Homo sapiens: one gene and its partners. The protein of the gene in region 1 purifies or fractionates together with the protein of each later gene. This does not show direct contact. Each region holds a gene or a part of one and is shown in the gene's direction. Other genes may lie near its edges.

Region 1 (2,591 bases):
GGGACCTCTCAAGTAGGAGTGTAGGCGTGGGCCCATCCAGCAACATTTGGGCATTCGTGGACATCCACATAGTGTTGTTTCTGTTCTTTTCCTCTCCTTCCTCATCTTCTCTCGTCTTTGTTGAATATTTTTATTATCCCGTCACCTCCTCTATCAGCTTATAACTTGTTCATTCTTTTCCTATCTTTTGGTGTTTATGCTTGCGATTGCAATATATAGCCTTGATTTTTTACGGTATACTATAAATTATTCCTTCTACCACTTTACCAATGAAGACTTTGAAACACCTCTAACTACATTCACTCCCTTCTGCTTTTTATGCCATTCTTGCCGCCATGCTATGATACATTTATTTAAAGTCCTGCAAGAAATGGCTATTAGTATTGTTTTGTGCAGTCCGTATTCATTTTTACCACATTTTTACACTTTATGTTGCCCTTTATTCCTTCTTCTATTTTATTATTATTATTATTTTTGGTGTGAGATCATCTTCTTGCTGCCTGACAAACTCCCTTTCATATATATTTTTTATTTTTATTTTTTGAAACAGGGTCTCACTCTGTCCCCCAGGCTGGAGTGCAGCGGTATGACCTTAGCTCACTGCAACCTCCACCTCCTGGGCTCAAACAATTCTCCTGCCTCAGCTTCCCGTGTAGCTGGGACTACAGGTGTGCACCACTACGCTGGGCTAATTTTTGTATTTTTTGGTAGAGATGGGGTTTCGCCATGTTAGCCAGGCTGCTCTTGAACTCCTGACCTCAAGTGATCCACCCGCCTCAGCCTCCCAAAGTGCTAGGATTACAGATGTGAGACACCGTGCCCAGCCTCATATATTTTTTGATGAAAGTCTGCTGAGGATGAATTCTGTCCACTTTTATTATCTGAAAACATCTTTATTTTGCCTCATTTTAAATAGTATTTAGATTGGGTGTAGACTTCTATATTGCCAATTAGTTTCTTTTAGCACTGTAAATACAGATGTCCAGTATTTTCAGATTCAGTTATTTCAGCTGAAAAGCTAGCTGAAAGTCTTGTTGCTCCTCTGAAGGTAATATGACTTTTTTCAAAAAATACATTTATAAAATTTTTTTTCTTTGCCTTGATAGTTTTACTACAAGGTGCCTGGATGAGACTTTCTCTGAATTTGTCTTGCTTGGGGTTCATAGAATCTGTGACTTGATGTCTTTCATGAGTTTTGAAAAATGCTAGCCATTATCTCTTAAATATTGCTATTACTCTACTCCCTCTTCTCTTTCAGATATTTCAGTTACACCAATGGCCAATGTTTGCTCGTGTCTCATATGTCTCTTGTTCTAGTTTCTGGATTTGTATTCTTTTTTCCTTTTCACATTCAGTCTGGATATTTTCTGCTGACCTATATTCCAGTTCACTAATAATGCTTTTCACTGTATCTAATTTGCTTATAAATAGAAAACCATTGATTGAGTTATTAATTTCAGTTATAGAATAGCCAGTGTAGACTCCAATGCTTGGCTCCACTTCTCCACTTTTTCACCTATTTTTTTCACCATCTTCCATTTTCTTCAACACACCAGTCAGAGTCGTTTTTAAAGACATTTTAAACACCTCAGTGGCCTGTAGATCTTATCTTCTGTTTTTTGTTTCTTTTTAATCTTAGTTTTTTGGCACACTTGGAGGGTTTTGATTGAATGCTAGACATAGTATTCAGGAAGGCAGAGAGGATTTTTTTTTAAGTCAGATTTTTTGAGGTATAATTTAATACAGTAAAATTCACCTATTTTAGTTCAGTTCTAAGAGTTTCCTCTGTGACTTTTCCTTTGGCCCATGGTTTATTTAAAATTGTGTTCTTTTACTTCCAAATTATTTGGGATTTTTCTAGATATCTTTCTGTTCTTGATTTCTGGCTTACCTCTATCAGGGTCAGAGAACAAACTTAATATGATTTCAATTATTTTAAATTTGCCAATGTTTATTTTATGGCCCAGAATATGGTCTATGTTGGTGAAAGTTCAATTTGAACTTGAAAAGAATATGTTTTATGCTGTTGTCTACTGAAAAGTCTATATATAAAAAATAGATTAATAAACTGATTAATAGCCTGGTTCACCACTTTCGTAGCCTTACTGATTTTCTGTTTAGTCATTCTGTTGATTACTAACAGATTCTCTAACAGAGAAGTATAAGCTTTCTAACTATAATGGTGGGTTAATCTGTTTCTCGTTTCAGTTCTAGCAGATGTTTCCTCAATTTTTGACGTTGCATTTTTAGGTGAATGCACTTCTGGAATTGTATTGTGTCCTTGCTGAATTGTCCCTTTTATCAACATGTAATAGCACCCTTTATTCTTGATAATAGTCTTTGTTCTGAATTTTACTTTGTCTGTTATTCCTATAGCCTTTCCAATTTTCTTTCGCTTGGATTTTACGTGATAAGTTTTTTCCCCCATTTTACTTTTAGCAACTCTATATTTTTTAGTTGAGGTTGGGTTTCTTGTAAACAGCATATAATTTGGGTTTTTTAATCCAATCTGAAAATTAATGTCCTTAATTTTGTGTTTATACCATTTACACATAATGTACTCATATATAAGGTTTAACTGAAACCTACTA
Region 2 (3,500 bases), on another chromosome or scaffold:
GCCTGGCCTGAAATGTTTTAAGCAGGAAAGTGAAAGCCTCAGATTTGCAATTTAAAGATCCTTCTGACTTCTGGGGGCAGGAAAGGGGGGCTGTATTCACGCACGACTGCATTTGTTAGGACCTATGACAGATGACCTGCACATGTGTGTACATCCATGCTTACCTGTGTGTGCGGGAACCTTCCCACAGTACAAGGGTGTGTTCTAGCAGACATGTGTGCATGAGGAAAGGGGCCCAGCCAGTGCCCTGTTCCAGACCCCACTGTCTTCCTATGCTTCATGGAGACAGAGAGAACTGTGTGTCGGGCCAATGCCCCCTTCACATCACCGCATGGCCTTGGCTGGTGTCACGCACTCTGCCCTCCTTGAAAGCTCTGCTGACCGCAGATGCCTTGTGTGCCTCATGCAGGGTACACCCTGAATCCTATTCTCATGTCCTCTCCAGCCTCTTTTGAGGCCTCTGCTCAGGACCTGCCTTAGGGGCTCATGTGTGCATAGCAAAGGTGCCTATTCATCGGGGGCCAGCAAGCTGGGGGACGTGTATTTGGCAGTAGGGACCTGGTTATTGGGGAGCAAGAGCATTCCTGGAGGGCCTGGGCCAAGTGCTGGATTTCAGATATTGTGAAATCTGAAGATATGGCTCCCCACTGGCTCCTTTAAGCAGCCACTTCCCCAGGGCACTGAAAATAGGACTCCTTAGGCTAAGTGGAACATTTGGGGAAGCAGGACTATTGCACAAATTGGCCTTCATTGCTCAGTCTTCCCTGCTTCGCAGCTGCACTGGGTACCTTTGGGACCAAGGCCCTGTTTCAGCCCTTCCCAACCTGCACTAGCTGGGGCCTCTGGTCCAGAGTGGCCTCATTAGTTTCTCTGAAAAGCCAAAGTCTCCTTCACCCCTCACCCCAAGTTCAGCAAACTTTCCCATTACAAAGCCCTTTCACCAACCTTAGTTTCATTTGCTTCTCACAGAAACCCTGAGAGTGGCCATTGTCAGTTCTATCTCTCAAAGGAAGGAAAAGACTCAAAGGTTATGTAGATTGCTCAACCATCTGCACGTTTATTGCAGCCAGACAACAGATCCCCGAGTCCCTGGCTCCCAGTCATTCATTAATTGAGGCTGAGGGGTGGGTGATTAACGTTTTCTCAGCAGCTTCTATGTGCCAGGTGCTTTGCGTGTTTCTTTTATTTAATTTTCAGGCCAATCTTCCCTGATAGGAATTATTATTGCCGTTAATAGGTGAGAGGCCCCTAGAGATGAAGTCACCTGCTCAAAGGCATGTAGTTAGTAAGTTCTGGAGCTAGAACTGGAACTCAGGTCTGCCTGATGACAAATCCAGTGGTCTTTGCACCGATCCATGCTGCCTCTTGGCTGCACCCATTGATCAGCCAGGCTAGCCCTTTTTTTTTTTTGAGACGGAGTCTCACTCTGCTGCCCAGGCTGGAGTGCAATGGCACAATCTCAGCTCCCTGCAACCTCCGCCCCCTTGGTTCAAGCGATTCTCCTGTCTCAGCCTCCTGAGTAGCTGGGATTATAGGCGTGTGCCACCATGCCCAGCTAATTTTTTGTATTTTTATTAGAGACAGGGTTTCACCATATTGGCCAGGCTGGTCTGGAACTCCTGACCTCATAGACTAGCCTTTTAGGACACAAAATAAATAAGGCTTGGGCCAGTGTAGACAGTGGTTAGGCCAGGTATGGTGGCTCACGCCTGTAATCCCAGCACTTTGGGAGGCCAAGGTAGGTGGATCACCTGAGGTCAGGAGTTCAAGACCAGCCTGGCCAACATAGTGAAACACTGTCTGTACTGAAAATACCAGCACAGTGGTTCACGCCTGTAATCACAGCACTTTGGGAGGCCGAGGCGGGCAGATCACGAGGTCAGGAGTTCGAGACCAGCCTGACCAACATGGTGAAACACCGTCTCTACTAAAAATACAGAAATTAGCTGGGCATGGTGGCACATGCCTGTAATCCCAGCTACTCAGGAGGCTGAGGCCGGAGAATTGCTTGAACCTGGGAGACGGAGGTTGCAGTGAGCCAAGATCGTGTCACTGCACTCCAGCCTGGGTGACAGAGCAATACTCCGTCTCAAAAAATAATAATAATAAAATAAATAATAATAAAAATACCAAAATTAGCCAGGAGTCGTGGCACACGCCTATAATCCCAGCTACTTGGGAGGCTGAGGGAGGAGAATTACTTGAACCCGGGAGGTAAAAGTTGCAATGAGCTGAGATCAAGCCACTGCACTCCAGACTGGGTGACAGAGTGAGACCCTCTCAAAAAAAAAAAAAAAAAAAAAAAAAGACAATGGTTAATGTGATGACAAAATCATGCATGCAGGACTGTGTACAGGTAAGAGAACAAGTAACTGTTGGAGAGATGTAGAGTCAGGAAGGCTTCCTGGAAGAGGTGGTACATAAGCCCCCCAGTCTGATCTCTTAAAAGATGAGAAAGTAGGGGGAGAGCACAAGCGAAAATATGGAGGTGGAAAATTAAGGAGTCACAAAACTGTGTTGTGTAGGCTATATCGGTCTTGGGAGATCAACCCTGAACCTGGAATGTGCTGGGCTGCATTTAACTATGGAAGGGGCTTGAATGTCAAACTAAAGCATTCAGACTTGATTCTGTTGGGCATGGGCAGCCATTCCCAAAGCTACCATTTATTGAAACCACTTTGTTCTAGAAGGTTGTTCTTATGTTCATCTCAGTAGACAATGGACTCCTGAGGACAAGGCCTGGGTCTTTTTCCTGACCTCAGGTGATCCGCCCGCCTCAGCCTCCCAAAGTGCCAGGATTACAGGCGTGAGCCACTGTGCCTTTAAAGACTATTTTGTCTTTAAAGATCTTAATACTCAGTGGCCTGTAAATGAATCCCCCAGTGAAAGTGAAGTCAGGAGGTCTGAAGAGATCAGGAGTTCGAGACCACCCTGGCCAACATGGTAAAATCCCATCTCTACTAAAAATACAAAAATTAGCTAGGCATGGTCGCACACACCTGTAATCCCAGCTACTTGGGAGGCTGAGGCAGGAGAACCGCTTGAACCCGGGAGACGGAGGTTGCAGTGAGCCGAGATTGCGCCAATGCACTCCAGCCTGGGCAACAGAGTGAGACTTCTCCTCAAAAACAAAAACAAAAACAAAAAGACAAAATAGTCAAATTTCCTCAACAAGTTTCATGTTTGCTTGAGGCCAGGAGTTCAAGACCAGCCTGGGCAACATACTGAGATGTCATCTCTACAAAAAATTTAAAAATTAGCGGGGCATGGTGGCACAAACCTGTAGTCCCAGCTACTTGGGAGGCTGGGTCAGGAGGATTGCTTGAGGCCAGGAGTTCAAGGTTCCAGTGAGCTATGATCACACCACTGCACTCCAGCCTGGGCAACACAGTGAGACCCTATCTCAAAAAAAAAAAAAAAAAAAAAAAAAAAAAAAGAAGTTTCAAGTGGTTCTTCTGGATGGAAGCTGAGGAGCTGAGGGTATACCACAGGGCACCTTG
Region 3 (3,500 bases), on another chromosome or scaffold:
TTTAATAAATAATGATTAATTTTTTTCTGTGTTTCAGGTACTATTCTATGAATTTTTCATATATTATTCAGTCTTCCAATGAACTTTAGAAGTTATTACTGTTATATCTATTTTGTAGAGAAGGACTTAAGGCCCAAGTAACTTGTTCAAGGTCATGTAGCTAGTAAATGGCAGAGGAGGCTTCAAGCCCACTTTCTGGCTCCAAAGTTTATACAATTAACCATAGTAACATACAGTATTTGCTAAATGAGCAGAAACAAAAAGGAAGGAAATTCTGACACGTTTTGCAACATGGATGAACCTTGAGAACATGATGCTAGTGAAAGAAGTCAGTCACAAAAGGATAAATATTGTATGATTTTAATTATATGAGGTCAAATTCACAGAAAGTAGAATGGTGGTTGCCAGGGGCTTGGGAGGAAGGCAGAATGGGGAATTATTGTTTAATGATTACAGAGTTTCAGTTTGGGAAAATGAAAAAAGTTCTAGCGATGGGTGGTGGTGATGGTTGCCCAACAATGTGAATGCTTAATGCCACTGAACAGTGTAATTTAAAATGGTTAAGATGGTAACTTTTGTTATATGTAGTTTACCACAATAAAAAAAAGTAAGAAACAATGCTATGAAACAAACATTGAGCCCTCATTACATATTAGGTGTTGGCTTTGTATCTTACATGAATTATCTCATCTAAGCATCATAGTAATGTTACATAAATACTATTACTCCTACTTTACAGCTGAGGAAAATGAAACTTAGAGACTTATGTAAAGTAACTTACCTTGCGTAACGTCTCCCAGTTATTGTCAGTAGTAAAATTAGGATTGGAGCTCTACTCCTAACCATCACGCTGGAATGTTTTATACACTCAAAAGAAAATCACCCTGAGACAAGTATTTGTTGTTAATTTTAGTACATTTAAATGCTAAGTTTTATTTCAAATTTTAGTTATAAAATTCTGGGTGGGCAAATGTTTGCCTTTTAATAAGATCTGTGACTTTTGAGAGAGTACCTTTTGTATATGTTGAGTTAATTGTTGGGCAAATTATCTGTGAAGTCTGATCAAAATCATGGTAAATCGTCACTTCTGCCTGCTTATCACGAGTTTCCTTTTTGCCTTACACTTTAAAGGCAATGGTTTTTAATTCTTTCAATGTGTAATGAATACTGTTTATAAATGACTTTTGCGTGATGCTAGCACATGGGACTGCTTATGAATTATCACTGTTTTTTTTTTTTCATCAATAGCCCATGCATGATGACTATGACTTAAGACAAGAACAGTTGAACAAAGCTTCTCTTCTCTCGTCAAAGAAGTTTCTGGAAAACTTACTGGAGAAATTTAATTCCCATGTGGTAAGTTATAATTAAATTTGTCTTCATGGTAGATACCATACCATTATTGAAAGATATTCTAGAAGTGCCACGTGGATGATTTTTTTTTTTTTTATTGTAGCCCCCAGCTTTGGTCAGTATTGGTCACAGTTCAGCTTGGTCACTGATAATAAAATATTTTGTCTTAGGACTATATCCATTCACCTGGGAAGGATAGATGTCAAAGCCTTTAGATTTTCACAGGGATACTCCAAATTTTTGTTTTTTCTTTCTTTAAAAATATCATTAGGAAATAAACTGCTCTAAAAAAAATTAAGCCAAATCTTTGTTCCTCAGTCCCTGATAACAATTTTGGAGATGGGCATTCTATAGCATCTTGAAGGAACATAAGCAGATTGCCAGAGTTTTGCAAATATTGTCAAATATTATTTTTTGCAAATATTAACCTTTGTTATACACATTTGAGAAGTCTTGGTTATACTCTTGAAATTTGAATTTTAATTGTTCCTTTTGAGGTATGATGGATAATGGATTCACTATATGAGCAAAAGCAAGTACTAAAGAGTCATCCAACTTTGAACCTCATGTTGAGAAATTAAAGTCAATGTTGATGTCTGACATATAGAATAACAGAAAGGAACACATTATTGTTAAAATTTAACTGAAGGTCCCCATCTCTTAAGTCTTTAAGAGAATCTGTTGCATTGTTTCAGGATCATGGGACTGGTGCCCTAGTTATTAGTTCGCTCTTGGACTTCCTTACCTTTGCCCTCTGTGCTCCATATAGTGAGACAACTGAAGGGCAGCAGTTTGATATGCTCTTGGAGATGGTAGCATCCAATGGAAGAACCCTTTTTAAACTTTTTCAGGTGAGAGCTTGTATTTTTCTTGTCAGATAACAGTGAATTTAAGGGAACCGCTTTTAGGATCACTGTTTCTAAGATAACATTTGCATACTTCTATAGCAGAGGTGTCCAGTCGTTTGGCTTTCCTGGGCCACACTGAAAGAAGAGTTGTCTTGGGCCACACATAAAATACACTAACACTAACAATATCTGATGACCTAAAAGAAAAAAAAATTGCAAAAATGTTTTTAAGAAAGTTTAAGATTTGTGTTGGGCTACACTCAAAGCCATCCTGGGTTAGCTTTGAATAAATATAAGCATCCATGTAGGCTGCGGGTTGGACAAGCTTGATCTATAATATTGACGAATAAATGCACCTAGTACATTATCATATTGGTACATTTTGAGTGTACAGATTTCTTGGTGTTTCATGTAGAGTCCCATTGATGGGTGTTCACTGCTGTTTTGACACTCTGCCCATTTTCTATATCTTGCTTTTTTATTTTATTTTATTTTATTTATTTTTTGAGGTGAAGGTCTTGTTCTGTTGCCCAGACTGGAGTGCGGTGATGCAATCACAGCTCACTGCAGCCTCAGCCTCCCAGGCTCAAGTAATCTTCCCACCTCAGTTGCTGAGTAGCTGGGACCACAGGCACATGCTACCAAACCCGGCTAATTTATTTATTTGTTTTGTAGAGACGGGGTCTCCCTTTGTTGCCCAGGCTGTTCTCATGCCCCTGAGCTTAAGCGATCCTCCTGCCTCAGCCTCCCAAAGTGCTGGGATTACAAACATGACCCACCACACCTGGCCTCCATTTTAGTAGTGAAAAACTCATTTTTCTGTGGTAGGCCCAAAGTTCCCTTTTCTTTACAAATTCCCAAATGATAAAATGAGCTTTAGCAGGGCTCTTCATAAACACTGGAAAACATTTGTTATTTTATACAGTACTATAGTACTTATTAGATACATGTATGTATATATGATGTTTATATTTTTATTATTTTAGTATCATTGATATGTATCATTCAAATAATTATAATTATTCAAATAGATGCCTTCTGTTTCCTACTAATGTAAATTCTTTGTTTATGTGTCTGTATCTCTAAGGCTATATTGTAAAAATACCTAAAATATTTAACCAAACTGACTTTGAGATGTATCCTTTACTAATTTTGTGGCTTATACCTTGTGTAAAAATGTATACCCTTCTTAAGAGTAACAGCTAAATGTGTTGGAATAAAATTCTTTTTTATTTTTTGATACTTTTTCCCCCTCACTTTAAAGCATCCTTCCATGGCAATAATAAAAGGAGCTGGGTT
Region 4 (3,500 bases), on another chromosome or scaffold:
CCAAATAGGTGGTTAAGAAATGTTTGCGGGATAATTGGCTGCACAAAATGCAGCGTTCAGCTGCAGATTCATCAGTGGCCCTTGCCCACATCTCCCGCATCCCAAGCTCTTGCATTGTCTCTGAGTCCTGGCCCTGCCCTGAATCGCTGGAGCAGCAGCAAGCACAGACCCTCAGCTAAGAGGGTCCCCCAGCTAAGGTTGGCCCCTGGGCCACCTCCAACCATCCCCACCCCCTTCCCCGACATATATCACCACCACCCTCTCTTCTTTTGTAGCCTTATTCCCCTTGGGAATAAGCCACCTCACACTTCCGAGGACCAGGGTGTAGGGTGGCACCTCGTCCACCAATTGTCATGGCCAGAAGGCTATGTATGTGCCTCCACTCAGGGGGAAGAGAATTCTAAGGAGCGGCTGAGAGAGGCTTGCTATCTGGCCCTGGATTGGGGTGCAGGGACCTCCCAGAGCCAGGCCCCTAGGGATGTGTGGACTGACCTGGGGTCTACGCTGTCTGATTTCTTAACCTTCCAGCTACCTGACCCTGATCAGAGTAGAAGGGACGGCAGTTAAGCAAGCCGGTGAGGAGGGCACTCTGTAATTTTTGAACATACTGGCTGTGTGTGAGGCTGAAGCCACAGCTCCTTCTTACCTGAAATTCATGGAGCTCTGCCTGAGGACTGAGTCCCTTTGGTCTCCATCCAGCCAGGTTCCCATGCCAACCTACTCCCAACACACTGATTGGAACCACAGAGCCCTCCAGCTGGGGTAGCCTGCCTTTGCATGACCTTTATCTCACAGACCATTCCAGAGAGGAGAAACTGAGGCACAGATGCAAGGACTTGCAGTAGATCATACAACCAGCTCTTCTCCCAATATGTACGTGGTTCACTCCCTCACTTCCTTCAGCTCTCCCCATGAATGCCACTTTCTCAAAGAGGCCTACCGGGGCTGCTCTGCTTAGAAACCCCTCCCCCCCAGCACACTCTTTTCCTCCTACTCGCCTTTATTTTCTCCATAGCACTCGTCACCTGATATGTGTTCATTGGTTTGTTTGTTTGTCTGTCTCTTCCCCGTTAGACTGTAAGTTCCATGAGGGCAGGGACTTCCATTGTGCTGTAGCCACAGCACCTAGAATAGCACTTAGCTCAAAGTAGCTGTTCCATAAATATAGGTTGAATGAATGAGTTAGTAAGTGAGTAGGTGTCAGGGCTGGCTTAGAACTTGCCTGCCAGCCTGTGCTCTGTAAATGCAAGGCTACCTGATTCAAGAAAGAGGTGGCAGGTGGGGGCCGGCCTAGGTCCTGGGGGCATATGGGCAGGAAGGAGCAGGGATTCCTGGTAGGAAGCAGGAGGGGGCCATGTCTCCTGTGCTGTCCCCACCCAAAGGATCCTTCAGCTGAGGATTGGGGCTTGTGTTTGTTAGAACTTGATTTGGCTGCTCATAGCAACAAAAAAGAGTAGTGGATTAAATAAGACAGGCATCAGTTATATCTCTCTCATATCATAGAACTTCAGAGGGGTGGTATAGTGGTTCTGCCATCATTCACACGTGGCCTCGTGGTCCAAGGTGGCTGCTGGAGTTCCAGCCATCAGGAAAAAGGAAGGAACAAGAAGCATGTGGCTCCTCTTTAGAGTGTGCCTCCCAGAAACCACATGTGACACTTCTAGTCACATTTTGTTGAACAGAACTTAGCATGTGGTCACACTAGCTGAAAGGCAGGCAGGAAAGAGAACTTAGGGAAGAGTAATTTTTATTTCAGGCACCCAAGTGCCTACCCAAAAAACAGTGGTTCAGTTACAAGGAGGAAGCAGAGAGTGGATATTTGGAGTAGGTGACTGGCAAATGCTACTGCAGAACTGGTCCCTGCAAACCTTGGACGTCTCTGTAGCTGCCCTCTGTCCTCACCTTGCCGGTCAGATCAGCTTCGCCTCTGCACACAGCTCTCAGGAAACACAGCTCTCAGGAAGCCTGGTCCCACTTAGTCCTCCAGTTATGTGGCTGTAGCCTTCTGGTCCTGAGGGGCAGTTTCTGGTAATGCACAAAGAAACCTGGCTCCTTCCTAATTGGGTCTTGAGCTGCAACAGGGATCCGAGGTGTCCCAGGACCCCCATAAGCTGGGCCTTGGGCAGGGTAGGAGGGGAAGGACCTGGGTTCCCCCACTGGCCTGTGGATAGGGAAGAAGTGTTTCTGCTCCCCATCTCTCCCTCTCACCTCAGAGCAGGTGAGTGCAGGGCCAAGGAAATACTGTCTTAGGGGTTTGGCTATGAGCTCTCAGTGACAGCAGCAGCCGGGGGCCAGTGACTTTGAAACCTGCGGGTGGTATTCCGTGGAGCTGCCTTGGGGGCCACTGAGGGCTTGGGGTGCATACCTGGAGAGGAAAATTAAGAGGAGGCCGATTTGGGGGGAGTTTTACGTCCATCCTCTTCACGAAGGCCTACTTTTAACTGTTCCGTATGATAGGTCTCTACGTAAGAATTCCTTTGACAAAAAATTTTGCTGTGATGGTGAAGAGAAGAAAAATGGAAATCTCTGCTGATGCCCTAGACTCTGCAGTTAAGAGGCTTGGATTTTAGCCACAGCTTCGACACTTGTTAGCCTTGTGATCTCAGACTTGTTCCTTGACCTGGGCTTCTCCAGCGGGAAAATAGGTATTGTGCCCTCCTCCATAGCAAGGGCTAAATAGGATCATGTAGGTGGTGCCTCTGATGTGCAGAAAGCATCCACACGTGTTGATTTTTTTTTTTTTTTTTTTTTTTTGAGACGGAGTTTCACTCTTGTTTGTCCAGGCTGGAGTGCAATGGCGCAATCTTGGGTCACCACTACCTCCGCCTCCCGGGTTCAAGTGATTCTCCTGCCCCAGCCTCTGGGGTAGCTGGAATTACAGGCATGCACCACCACGCCCACCTAAGTTTGTATTTTTAGTAGAGACGGGGTTTCTCCTTGTTGGTCAGGCTGGTCTTGAACTCCCAACCTCAGGTGATCCGCCTAATCAGCCTCCCAAAGTGATAGGATTACAGATGTGAGCCACCCGCACCTGGCATGTTGATTTTATTTCTTGTATTGGCGTCAGCCCTAGCCCAGTGTGAGTCAACAGACCCTGTTACCCCACCCCCAACGCCATGCTAGAGCAGCATCCTCTGCGACCTCACAGGGCCAGGTTTTCTTCTTCAAGGCCCTTCCCCATTACTCAGGCTGGGGGCCTCAGTGCGGGGAGGCAGGGTTAGTTGGAGACCGCAGTTTTAGATGAAGGTGGCCAGGGTGGGCTTAGCTAAGAAGCCACTGAGATGGCGCCCCCTGCCTTCCTATTCCTGCCTGGTGCTCCTCAGCTCACCCCTAGGGGGCACTGCCCTTCACTTTGGGGCTTTGAGTCAAAACAGACTTTTTTTTTTTTTTTTTTTTTTTTTTTGAGACAGGGCCTCACTGTGTTGCCCAGGCTGGAGTGCAGTGGCACGATCTCGACTCACTGCAACCTCCGCCTCAGGAGTTCAAGCGATCCTCTCACC

Evidence for each region.
Region 2: the proteins of FCN1 (region 1) and SEZ6L2 purify together in Homo sapiens (affinity purification with mass spectrometry; 3 studies listed by BioGRID and IntAct, with this or other methods). This does not show direct contact.
Region 3: the proteins of FCN1 (region 1) and DNAJC13 purify together in Homo sapiens (affinity purification with mass spectrometry; 3 studies listed by BioGRID and IntAct, with this or other methods). This does not show direct contact.
Region 4: the proteins of FCN1 (region 1) and PODXL purify together in Homo sapiens (affinity purification with mass spectrometry; 3 studies listed by BioGRID and IntAct, with this or other methods). This does not show direct contact.

The regions. Positions count from the first base shown.
Region 1 is NC_000009.12:134,902,732-134,905,322, reverse strand, and holds the end of FCN1 (ficolin-1 precursor), read left to right. Parts: 3' UTR 1-2,091; downstream 2,092-2,591.
Region 2 is NC_000016.10:29,889,551-29,893,050, reverse strand, and holds part of SEZ6L2 (seizure 6-like protein 2 isoform 5 precursor), read left to right. Parts: intron 1-3,500. UniProt on the Homo sapiens protein: May contribute to specialized endoplasmic reticulum functions in neurons.
Region 3 is NC_000003.12:132,459,002-132,462,501, forward strand, and holds part of DNAJC13 (dnaJ homolog subfamily C member 13), read left to right. Parts: intron 1-1,248; coding exon 1,249-1,356; intron 1,357-2,048; coding exon 2,049-2,204; intron 2,205-3,465; coding exon 3,466-3,500.
Region 4 is NC_000007.14:131,546,629-131,550,128, reverse strand, and holds part of PODXL (podocalyxin isoform 1 precursor), read left to right. Parts: intron 1-3,500. UniProt on the Homo sapiens protein: Involved in the regulation of both adhesion and cell morphology and cancer progression. Functions as an anti-adhesive molecule that maintains an open filtration pathway between neighboring foot processes in the podocyte by charge repulsion.